Linked DNA regions of Homo sapiens. The protein of the gene in region 2 purifies or fractionates together with the protein of the main gene of each other region. This does not show direct contact. Each region holds a gene or a part of one and is shown on either strand. Other genes may lie near its edges. The genes, in order: PIGU, ART4 and GPM6A.

Evidence for each region.
Region 1: the proteins of ART4 (region 2) and PIGU purify together in Homo sapiens (affinity purification with mass spectrometry; one large-scale study listed by BioGRID and IntAct). This does not show direct contact.
Region 3: the proteins of ART4 (region 2) and GPM6A purify together in Homo sapiens (affinity purification with mass spectrometry; one large-scale study listed by BioGRID and IntAct). This does not show direct contact.

Annotation. Positions count from the first base shown.
Region 1 is NC_000020.11:34,586,441-34,590,096, reverse strand, and holds part of PIGU (GPI-anchor transamidase component PIGU), read left to right. Parts: intron 1-1,489; coding exon 1,490-1,644; intron 1,645-3,656. UniProt on the Homo sapiens protein: Component of the glycosylphosphatidylinositol-anchor (GPI-anchor) transamidase (GPI-T) complex that catalyzes the formation of the linkage between a proprotein and a GPI-anchor and participates in GPI anchored protein biosynthesis.
Region 2 is NC_000012.12:14,833,518-14,837,173, reverse strand, and holds part of ART4 (ecto-ADP-ribosyltransferase 4 isoform 1 precursor), read left to right. Parts: intron 1-3,656.
Region 3 is NC_000004.12:175,669,228-175,672,883, reverse strand, and holds part of GPM6A (neuronal membrane glycoprotein M6-a), read left to right. Parts: intron 1-3,656. UniProt on the Homo sapiens protein: Involved in neuronal differentiation, including differentiation and migration of neuronal stem cells. Plays a role in neuronal plasticity and is involved in neurite and filopodia outgrowth, filopodia motility and probably synapse formation.

The DNA.
Region 1 (3,656 bases), on a different chromosome or scaffold from region 2:
TGAGGAAAACATTTTTAAGAGAGGAAAAATTTAGAAAATGTATAATGATAGCCATATGTCTACTGCCCAAACTAAACAGATATTAAGATTTTTGCTATATTGTTTCATAATTGCTGTTGTCATACTTAATAAAATATGTGAGGCCAGGCGCAGTGGCTCATGCCTGTAATCCCAATACTTTGGGAGGCCAAGGCGGGTAGATCACCTGAGGTCGGGAGTTTGAGACCAGCCTGGCCAACATGGTGAAACCCTGTCTCTACTGAAAATATAAAAATTAGCTGGGCGTGGTGGCAGGCACCTGTAGTCCCAGCTACTCAGGAGGGTGAGGCAGGAGAATCCCTTGAACCCGGGAGGTGGAGGTTGCAGTGAGCCGAGATCACGCCGTAGCACTCCAGCCAGGGCAACGAGCGAAACTCTGTTTCAAAAAAAAAAAAAAAAAAAAAAAAAGCCAGGTGCAGTGGCTCACGCCTATAATCCCAGCACTTTGGGAGGCCAAGGTGGGTGATTCACGAGGTCAAGAGATGGAGACCATCCTGGCCAACATGGTGAAACCCCGTCTCTACTAAAAATACAAAAATTAACTGGGTGTGGTGGTGCGCACCTGCAGTCCCAGCTACTTGGGAGGCTGAGGCAGGAGAATTGCTTGAACCTGGAGGCAGAGGTTGCAGTGAGCCGAGATCGTGCCACTGCACTCTACCTTGGCGACACAGCAAGACTCTGTCTCAAACAAAGGAAAGCAGATAAAGTTGAAGTTTTTTTAACCCAAATTTGGCGTTTTTTTAAAGTCTTTTTTTACTTGTTTATTTCTTTTCATTTTGCATATGAATGCCAGGTTATATGAAGTTTCTTAGGTTCCAATTATATTTTCCTCTCTGGTTCCCAGGAGGCTAATACTATCATAACTTTAGTATATGTCCTTCTAATCTATGTTTTATGAAACTTACAGATGTGTGTGTGTGTGTGTGTGTGTGTGTGTGTGTGTGTGTGTGTGTAAATAATAGTATTATTTGGTATAATCTCAGAACACATAAGTATTTTCATATAATAGGCTTGTTTAGCAATTTTCTATTATAACTAACCTCATATTTTTTAGATCTAGCCATGTTGACATTTATAGATACAATATATTCATTTAACCTGGCAAATAGTATACCATATGTCAATATACCACAATTTATTTGTTCCTCTATTGAAGGATTTTTTCTTGATATTCCAAACAATGGTGCAATGAATCTTCCTCCATTTGTATCTTCTGCAACTTGTCTCCAGGATACATACCTAGAAATGGTGTTACTAGGTCTGAGGTCAGAGGATGCACCCGTAATACCTTTTTAACACTTACATCCTTCTTAGTTAATTAAAGACCAAAGCAAAATTATAAACCTGTGTATCATAGTATGGTTTTGCGGGAGGGATCTTTAAGTGTAAGCTAATAGCTGCCCTCTGTTGTTTACATCCCTAAGTTTATATCACTTTGCCTTCTCTCCAGCGGCAGTACATACCTGTGAAAATGAAGAGCAAAGCCTTCTGGATCTTTTCTTGGGAGTATGCCATGATGTATGTGGGAAGCCTAGTGGTAATCATTTGCCTCTCCTTCTTCCTTCTCAGCTCTTGGGATTTCATCCCCGCAGTCTATGGCTTTATGTAAGTAATGACCACGTTAGAAAATTCTAGAAGCTGTGGGGAAAAGGGAACCCTTGTATACTGTTGTCAAGAATGTAAATTAGTACAGCCATTATGGAAAACTGTATGAACATTCCTCAAACAACTAAAAATAGAATTACCATTTGATCCAGCAATCCCACTTCCGGCTACTTACTTAAAGGATTTTTTTCTTTTTTTTTTGAGACAGGGTGTCGCTCTGTTGCCCAGTCTGGAGTGCAGTGGGGCCATCTCCGCTCACTGCACCCTCCACCTCCTGGTTTCAAGTGATTCCCCTGCCTCAGCCCCCCGAGTAGCTGGGACTACAGGCATGCACCACCACGCCCGGCTAATTTTTGTATTTTTAGTAGAGACAGGGTTTCACCATGTTAGCCAGGCTGGTCTCAATGATCCATCTGCCTTGGCCTCCCAAAGTGCTGGGATTGCAGGTGACTCAAAATTTTTGAAATCAGTTTGTTGAAGATTTGTCTGCACTCCCATGTTCATTGCAGCATTATTCATAATAGCCAAGTTATGGAATCAATCTAAATGTCCATCAACAAACAAATGGATAAAGAAAATTTGGTATATATACACAGGGGAATACTATTCAGTCTTAAAAAAGGAAATTCTGTCATTTATGACAGTAGTAGGGATGGAATTGGAGAATCTGATGCTAAGTGGAATGAGCTAGGCACAGAAAGACAAATACCGCATGTGTTCTCACTTATATGTGGACTCTAAAACAATTACGCTCATAGAAGCAGAGAGTAGAAGGGTGGTTACCGATGCCGGCAGGGTGGGAGAATGGGGAGATAATGGTCAAAGGGGTACAAAATCTCAGGAGGAATATGTTTTTTTCTTTTCTTTTCTTGAGTACTAGCACAGTGTGGTGAATATAGTTAATAATAGAGTATTGTATATACCAAAATTGCTAAGAGAGTAAATTTCAATCGTTCCCACCACAAACAATGTTTAATATTTGAAGTGATGGAAATGTTAACTAGCTAGATTTAATTATTCTACATAGTATTCAGAAATCATAACATCACATAAAATCACCCATAAATTCGTACAACTATATGTTGTCAGTTAAAACCCCCCCGACAAAACTCTGGAAGCTAATTTGGTTTTCATAGCTCTAGCTGGACTCAGAGGGTGAGGGACCACAGGAAGCCTTTATATTAAATAGCAGCGGTTCTCAAACCTTAAGGTGCATCAGAATCACCTGCAGGACTTATTAAAACCCAGATTGCTGGGCCCACCCTCAGAGGTTCTGATTAAGTAGGTCTTGGGGAGGGATCAACAATTTGCATTTCTCCGGTTTCCAGGTGATGCCAGTGCTGTTGGCCTGCTGGTTTAGGGAACACACTTTGAGAACCTGTACTCTGAAACACACCTTTGATATGGTGGGATTAACCCATTTATGCCTAGTGTTCTATTATTGGAACACGAAGCTTGTGGGAGTTATTTACGTCCTACTGCTCAAGGTCATCGCCAAGGTCTGATTTTTCACACAAAAAAATTTGCAACCTCCAGCATAAGTGGGTTAAAGAGCACTCCCTGGGAACATCCAAAGCAAATACCAGCCTCTAACTGGGAGGTTTGGGCTCAATTCTAAACAGGAATGGATGTGTTCCTCTAGTGCAAGAGGGCCTCTGACAGTTTGAAAATAATGCCACCTGCCACACGTCAAACCTTGAGGGAAAACTCAAATGGACTTGAGTATTGCAGGCTTGTCTGAGTTTATATTCATGAATTCTATAAACATTTCCGAATGCCCTCTGCGTGCCAGGCTCTGCATAGGTGCCGAAGACTCGGTTGCTCCCTAAGCTTTGGGGAGCTCACAGCCCAATAGGTGACAGACTCTTAAACCTGTGCATGTGTGGAAGGGATCTGAGTGGCAGAACTCCCATTTGGAATTCTGGACTGCTTATTTGTGTTAAATCCTGGCTGAGCATAACAATGACTTGCTAACTTCAGCTCTTCATGCTCTGCCTTAGATAGGAGTTGCG
Region 2 (3,656 bases):
TGTGTGGCCATGCAGAAAAGCTTGTAAACGGCAGAATAAAAATACCACTGGTCATGATGTGAATCATCCCGTTGTTTGGGGGATCCACAGTCTACACTGTGAGTCACTTAGTAGCCCTCTCAGTGATCAGATCTGCTGTCTCGGTATTGCAGTGTTTGTTTTCAAGTGACCCTCATTTTATTTCATAATGGCCCCAAAGTGCAAGAATAGTGATCTTGGTGATTCAGATATGCCCAAGAGAAAGTGCCTCCTTTGAATGAAAAGTTTAAAGTTCTCAACTTAATATTTTCTTTATAAATTGAAGTGAAGAGGGAAGAGATAGGTCAGAGGCATCATATAATCAGCCAAGAGCTGGAATTGGAGCATTTTCTCACCCTCCACAGCTACGAAACTATCTGGGAAGGTAAAAGAAGGAGAGGAATAAGCTCACATTGCAGGGATGCCTTTCTTCCTTTGATCCCAGACTCTGACTAAGGGTTGCAGAGAAGGCTGGTCCATCCTCTGGTTCTACCTGACCTACCTAAGCCTCATCTGCCATTGGCTAGTTAGCATCACAGTCATTTAGTTGAGGGCAAAAAATTGCAGTAATGCCCCCTTACCTATGGTTTTGCTTTCTCTGGTTTCAGTTACCCGCAGAATATATTAAATGGACAATTCCAGAGATAAAGAATTCCTAAGTTTTAAATGGTATGCCATTCTGAGTGGTGTGATGAAATCTTGTGCCTTCCCTCTTGGGATGTGAATCATCCACAGTCTACACTGTGAGTCACTTAGTAGCCCTCTCGGTTATCAGATCTGCTGTCTCGGTACTGCAGTGTTTGTTTTCAAGTGACCCTCATTTTATTTCATAATGGCCCCAAAGTGAAAGAATAGTGATCTTGGAGATTCAGATATGCCCAAGAGAAAGCGCCTCCTTTGAATGAAAAGTTTAAAGTTCTCAACTTAATAGAAAGAAAGAAAAAATTGTATGCTGAGGTTGCTAAGATCTACTGTAAAAATGAATCTTCTACCTGTGGAATTGTGAAGAAGGAAAAAGAAATTCATGCTAGTTTTGCTGCCACACTTCAAACTTTATCATTGATGATATATATATATATGTATATACATACATACACATATGAAAATAACATAGGGTTCACTACTACCTGTAGTTTCAGGAATCCACTGAATGTCTTGGAATGTATCCACTAAGGATAAAGGGACACTACTGAATACAGTCTTGGACAGGACACAATATCTATCTCTTATGATTTAAAAAATGTTTGATTGCCAGCCAGGTGCAGTGGCTCACACCTATAATCTCAGCACTTTGGGAGGTCGAGGCAGGTGGATCACAAGGTCAGGAGATCGAGACCAGCCTGACCAACATGGTGAAAGCCGTCTCTACTAAAAATACAAAAATTAGCCAGGAGTGGTGGCACGAGCCTGTAATCCCAGCTACTCAGGAGGCTGAGGCAGTAGAATCACTTGAACCCAGGAGGCAGAGGTGGCAGTGAGCCAAGATCGCGCCACTGCACTCCAGCCTGGGCAACAGAATGAGACTCCGTCAAAAAAAAAAAAAAAGTTTGATTGCCTTCAGAATGTTTTCAGTTATTCGCTACAGTGTTGTTTGTTTGTTTCTTTGTTTCTTTGTTTTTCTCTCAATCAGTAAGCGAAGGAACATCAGAAAGGTCCTTAAAGTGATTTATTTTAACTGATAAGTAGTACTTACCCCAACATTCTGGAGCAGTATTGGACTGAGCCATACATGAACAATAAGAGGAAGGAGGTAGTGTGTCTTTCTTATCTGGGATCCTTAACAGGGAGGAAGTAAGATCAGTGGACTCTCCCCAGACCCAACTTTCTAGATAGCTACCATTTCCCACTTCACTGCTCCACTAACCCCAGCCTAGGGAATTCACAGATGGTGTTCTGGAACACTGATATCTAACTCCTCACGAAACTGTAATCTTCTCTGGACACTATTTCTCATTCTTTCAGCTTCGTTTTGTTTCATGAGCAGGAGCCACAAGCTATTCTGTGTCCCCAGAAGTCCCTATAAGCCAAGTGAATTATGTTTTCTCTCCTGTTCCCTCTCAATCTGACAGACGTGATACTGGAAAGACCACTTGAAGACCTTTAAAATTACCCAGCAGCATACTGTAATTCTCCCAAAGAAGAGACAGTATATTTAAGAGCATAGCTTCTCCAGTCCTTCAATTTATGCTAAAATCAGTCCTGTTAGCATGTAACTCAAGTTTAAAGAGTTTCCAGGAATCTGTTGCTTTTAGAGAGACAAGAGATCAAATTAATAGAATTATACTATTTAAGGAAGTAAATTTGCAAAAGGAAAAATTGTCATTCTAAACTAACAGCTTTCCTCTCTAATTATTCCATCACCCCTCACATGACCTGTACTGGTTGCCATAGAAACAGGTGTCTTCATGCCCATTGGAAGACTCAAAATATGTTAACAGAATGTTAGTTATTTGCCCTTAAATCTTGCTTCTTTCAGCAAAATAACCTATGCCAAAAATCTGTAGACACACAAATACATGCTCTGTTCTATATCATTGGATTCACAAAGAACAGGGATTTATTTGTTAAAATGTTTCACATAATCAAAATTCTTAACATGTTTCTAGAGAAATATAGGCAATTGTTTGTAGTCAGCCTGGTTTTACATGTAAACTTCACTTTTTAAAAACCTGTACGATTCTAGTGGGGAGAAAATGAATGAATGCATGTAAAATCTCTTAGAATAGTATCTGACAAATGTTAAGTACTCAAAACTTTTAAGATACTATTATCATTATTATTATTTATTTTATTAGCTTTCTATTTTGCCTGTTTTCTTTTACTCTGGGCTTCAATTATCTAAAATTAGTTTACCCTATTTGTGGCATCACAATGACCTTGAAGTAGAGTGTCTGTCTCAGATAAATGGATGAAAGAATGAGTCATTGAATAAATCTGGGAGACCACACGGCATGGTGGAAAGTGAATAAACTTTGGAGCCAGAAAGATTTGGGTATATGTTAGTAGCTAGGTGACCTTGTGCAAATGACTTAACCTCTGAGCCTGTTTCTTCATTTATAAAATGGAAGTGATACTCATCTTGTGGGAATGTTGTGATAGCATTGGTGTCTCTGCCTCCTTTCAAACACAACTGAGAAACTCTGGGAAAGTACTTTGCACATGGAAGTGGGATAATGGTTTAATGGCACAAGCATGTGCTTCAGTGAAATTGATAGTAAGAAGAGAAACAAAGGAAGAGGCAGAAGGAATAACGCTTTTCATTTTCGGGTGCTAAGTTTTTGCTAGGTAATATTCTACAATATTAACACTCTTGCTCCTTGCATTTTGACAGAAAGAGGCTATAGATAGCATTTGCCTCAAACACTAGACTTGGTATACTGCACGTCAGCTTTACCTTTTTCTGTTTAAGGACTATTTACTTCTGAACAGTCTGATAAAATTCAGATTCAGACTTCATGAAATAAAAGTTATAATCATTATGTATTTCTTCCAGACTTTATACCCTAAGGCAGAGATGACCAAAATCAGGTTATAATACACTGATAAAATGATATTTGTTTGGCAGTTTAGTTTACAAAACGCTTGGACACCCATTATCTGTTTAGTTTTCACAATCACCCTGTAAGTCAGGTTATTGA
Region 3 (3,656 bases), on a different chromosome or scaffold from region 2:
TTTTATTTTAACCTGTTTCTAACACATTTTATTATGCTTCTTGGTGTCAACAGCAACAATAATCTGATAAGATAGTTTGCCTGAGTTGTGGGTATTTGTAGTGGTCTCTGGAATTATTTCTTATAAGAATCATCTGTTTTTAGTTTGGGACAAAACTTATTGTAACACCCAAAGAGATAAAATATATGAGTAGGAGTAAAACTGGAATCCCAATAATGTGACTAAGGGGCTTTAAATTGTGCCTTATTATTGAAATTATTTAAATCAGTAATAGCGAATTATAGATCCAGGGAAACTTAGTTACAGAGAGATATTGGATTGATGAAAAAATAAAATATGACTAATTTGTGGTCCAATTTTCAGTGATGCCCAAGCAATTTCTCCAGTAAAAAGGCAAATTCCGATTTTAAGATTCATTTCCCTTCTGTCAATAGAGTATAGTGAATTGAGTTATATAGTAATTGGCTTTTTATTACAATTGGAACAGTAACATTGTAATGCCACTGGTGTGCCTTGGCAAGTTACTTACCTTTTATGGATCACAGTTTCCTCATTTACAAAATGAGGATCATTTCTAAAGCTTATTCCAGCTCAACGAGTCTGTGATTCTAAAACCCTAACGAAAAAATAAAGAGATAAGGGGGTCTGAAAGCACGTCTTTACCGTAAGGTAATAACCTTCTGCCAGGACGAGTGCAGTCAATTGTGTTATTTCATTCAGAATTTGAAAATAACTTCATAATAAAAAGACAAAGCAATCAAGGAAGAATTGCATATCTATATATAGAGAGAGATGCACTTGGTTATCTGCCTGCCATTCAAGCATCTTAAAGGTATTTCAAATAGGAATTTTCGAAGCAAAACATGAGCCACGTTTTCTTTCTTTCTTTTTTTTTTTTTCTATAATGGTAACAATTGTGTCACCAGTCCCACCCAACAGACCAGAAGGGTGGCAGCAGCTGCTGCGTGGGCTCCTCCAGAGGCAATGCAGCAGGGTGTCAGCCCAGCAAGATGCCCCGCCCACTCCTGTAACACCTCCCTGACACCCCGGAATGAGCAGAGCAGAGACAGGAGTAGGAGCTGCATTCTTCTGCGTTCTGCAGAGACAGCAGAGCAGCGGGTGAGGCTCTGAGCCATACCCTGGCTGTCCCAACACTGCCTTCACGAAGGGGGCTAGCTCCACGACTGAGAAGTAAACAGTGGCGGCTGCAGCCAGCGCTGCAGAACCCTGCCTCCCTTCCCCTCTGCCAACCATTCCTCCACACCCCCACCTCAGCTTGCATATCACGCAGGACTTGTAGCTCCATGAAATCGAGGGGAAAAGAAAGATTTATCGTCCACCCTCTCCTGCTACTTATTTCCACTCTACTGATGCTGCTTTTTTTTTTTTTTTTTTTTTTTTTTTTTCGTTTGTAGGCAGATTGTATCTTACGGTCTACTTTATTATGTTCAAAGTGAACCTGTTAACCTCTTTTGCCTGTGTTCCGTAGCTGTGAATGAGTCTGTGCTTTTGAAGGTACTATATCGGTGCAGCTCTAGTTGGAACACTGAATAATACTAAAGGGTGGATTTTTTTTTTTTGCAACAAGTATATAAAAATCTTCCTTAGTTAATACTAACAGAAATTTGTTATTCTATCCCTGTTTCTCTCTGCTGCATAAAAAGTAAATGGTTACTAATTGAAATTATATCAGCACAAATGCAATTAATTTTGAAGCAGCAGGCCGGGCGTGGTGGCTCACACCTGTAATCCTAGCACTTTGGGAGGCCGAGGCAGGCGGATCACGAGGTTAGGAGTTCGTAGACCAGCATGGTCAACATAGTGAAACCCTGTCTCTACTAAAAATAAAAAAATTAGCCGGGCATGGTGGCAGGCGCCTGTAATTCCAGCTACTTGGGAGGCTGAGGCAGGAGAATCGCTTGAACCCAGGAGGCAGAGGTTGCAGTGAGCCCAGATCGTGCCACTGCACTCCAGCCTGGGCGACAGAGCAAGACTTTGTCTCAAAAAAAAAAAAAAAAAAAATGAAGCAACATTGTATCACTGAATGGAGAGTGATAATCAATATTCCCTTTACTTAATGAATGCCTTTGAAAGCATAACTTGGTCTGCATTCTGTGTTTCCTTTCATGCGGTATCAGCACCAATTCAAGTTCATTACAATATTTTAATGCTATCTGTCATTCAAAATCCAGAATTTGAGGCACGTAAAACCACAATATTAAATTTTGAGGGTGAAAATCATTATTAACGACTTTATTAAAACATTATATGAAAAGTTATTAAAGTATTTTAAGTAACAAAATTTATTTACCTTAAATATTAAATGGCACCAAATTGAGTACAAATACATGTTATTGACTACATTGAACATGACCTTTTTAAGTTTAATGTAGAAGTATTTATTTTCTTTAACCATATTTTCTTATTAAAGTTTAAGCCAAAACATATTTATTCCGCTGCAAATTAGGAGACCTTCAGTGTGTCACATTTTCAAATCTTGAGATATTTTTTGCCCCCATCCCCAATTTTCTTATTTCTACAAATTTCCGATTGCTACTGTGACATCATTATGGATCTCAGAATTTATCTATACTTCTTCTGAAATTTAGATTTTTAAATGCAACACTTTCGAAGTAATAGATTTCCCAAATGTACTAAACTCTATGGAATTTTCAATAAATGTATTTTCCATAAATCTACCTGCTCTAAGAGTTAAATAAAACAATAATAACTTTTGGAAGTGTGTTTACTAGTTTGCTAGGGCTACCACAACAAAGTGCTATAAAGTGGATGGCCTAAACAACAGAAATTCATTGTCTCACAGTTCAGGAAGCTAGAAGTTTGAGACCAAAGTGTCACCGGGTTGATTTTTTTTTTTTCCTGAGGGCTGTAAAGAACACCCGGTTCCATGTTTCTCCCCTACCTTCTGGTTGGCTGCTGGTAATTTTTGGCATCCAGTGGTTTATAGAAGTTTCACCCATCACTGCCTTCACATTCATATGATGTTCTTCCTGCCTGAAAAGCTGTGTCCAAATTTCCCCTTTTTTTATAAGGACAGCAGTCATATGGGAATAGAGCCCACCCTAGTGACCTAATTTTTTACTTTTTCAACTCAGTAAAGAGCAATAAGGTCAATCTCTGAGACACTGGTGGTAGAATTTCATCATATGAATTTTGTGAGGACACAATTCAACTCATAACAGTCTTATGATAACAGTAATGTTCTTCCATATATAAGTTTTAAAGAAACAAAATTAACTAGTTGCTATTGTTACCCTGTTTCAGAGATAAAGAAACATAAAAGGTTGAATATCCTAATCTGAAAATCCCAAATCTGAAATGCTCCAAAATGTGAAACTTTTTGAGCGTCAACGTGATGCTCAAAGGAAATGTTCATTGGAGCATTGCAGATTTGGGGTATTTGGATTTGGGATGTTCAACTGGTAAGTTAATGCAAATATTACAAAACCTAAAAAAAATTTGAAATTCAAAACACTTCTGGCCCTAAGCATTTCAGACAAAGGATTTTCAACCCTTATTCTATTTGTTTAGTTTAAAACATCTGTCTTATTAGCCTCAGGTGTTTGTAGATTTGGCCACAGCATATTAGATTAGTATTTTTAAGACATACTCTGTATAATTATCTTAAAATCTAT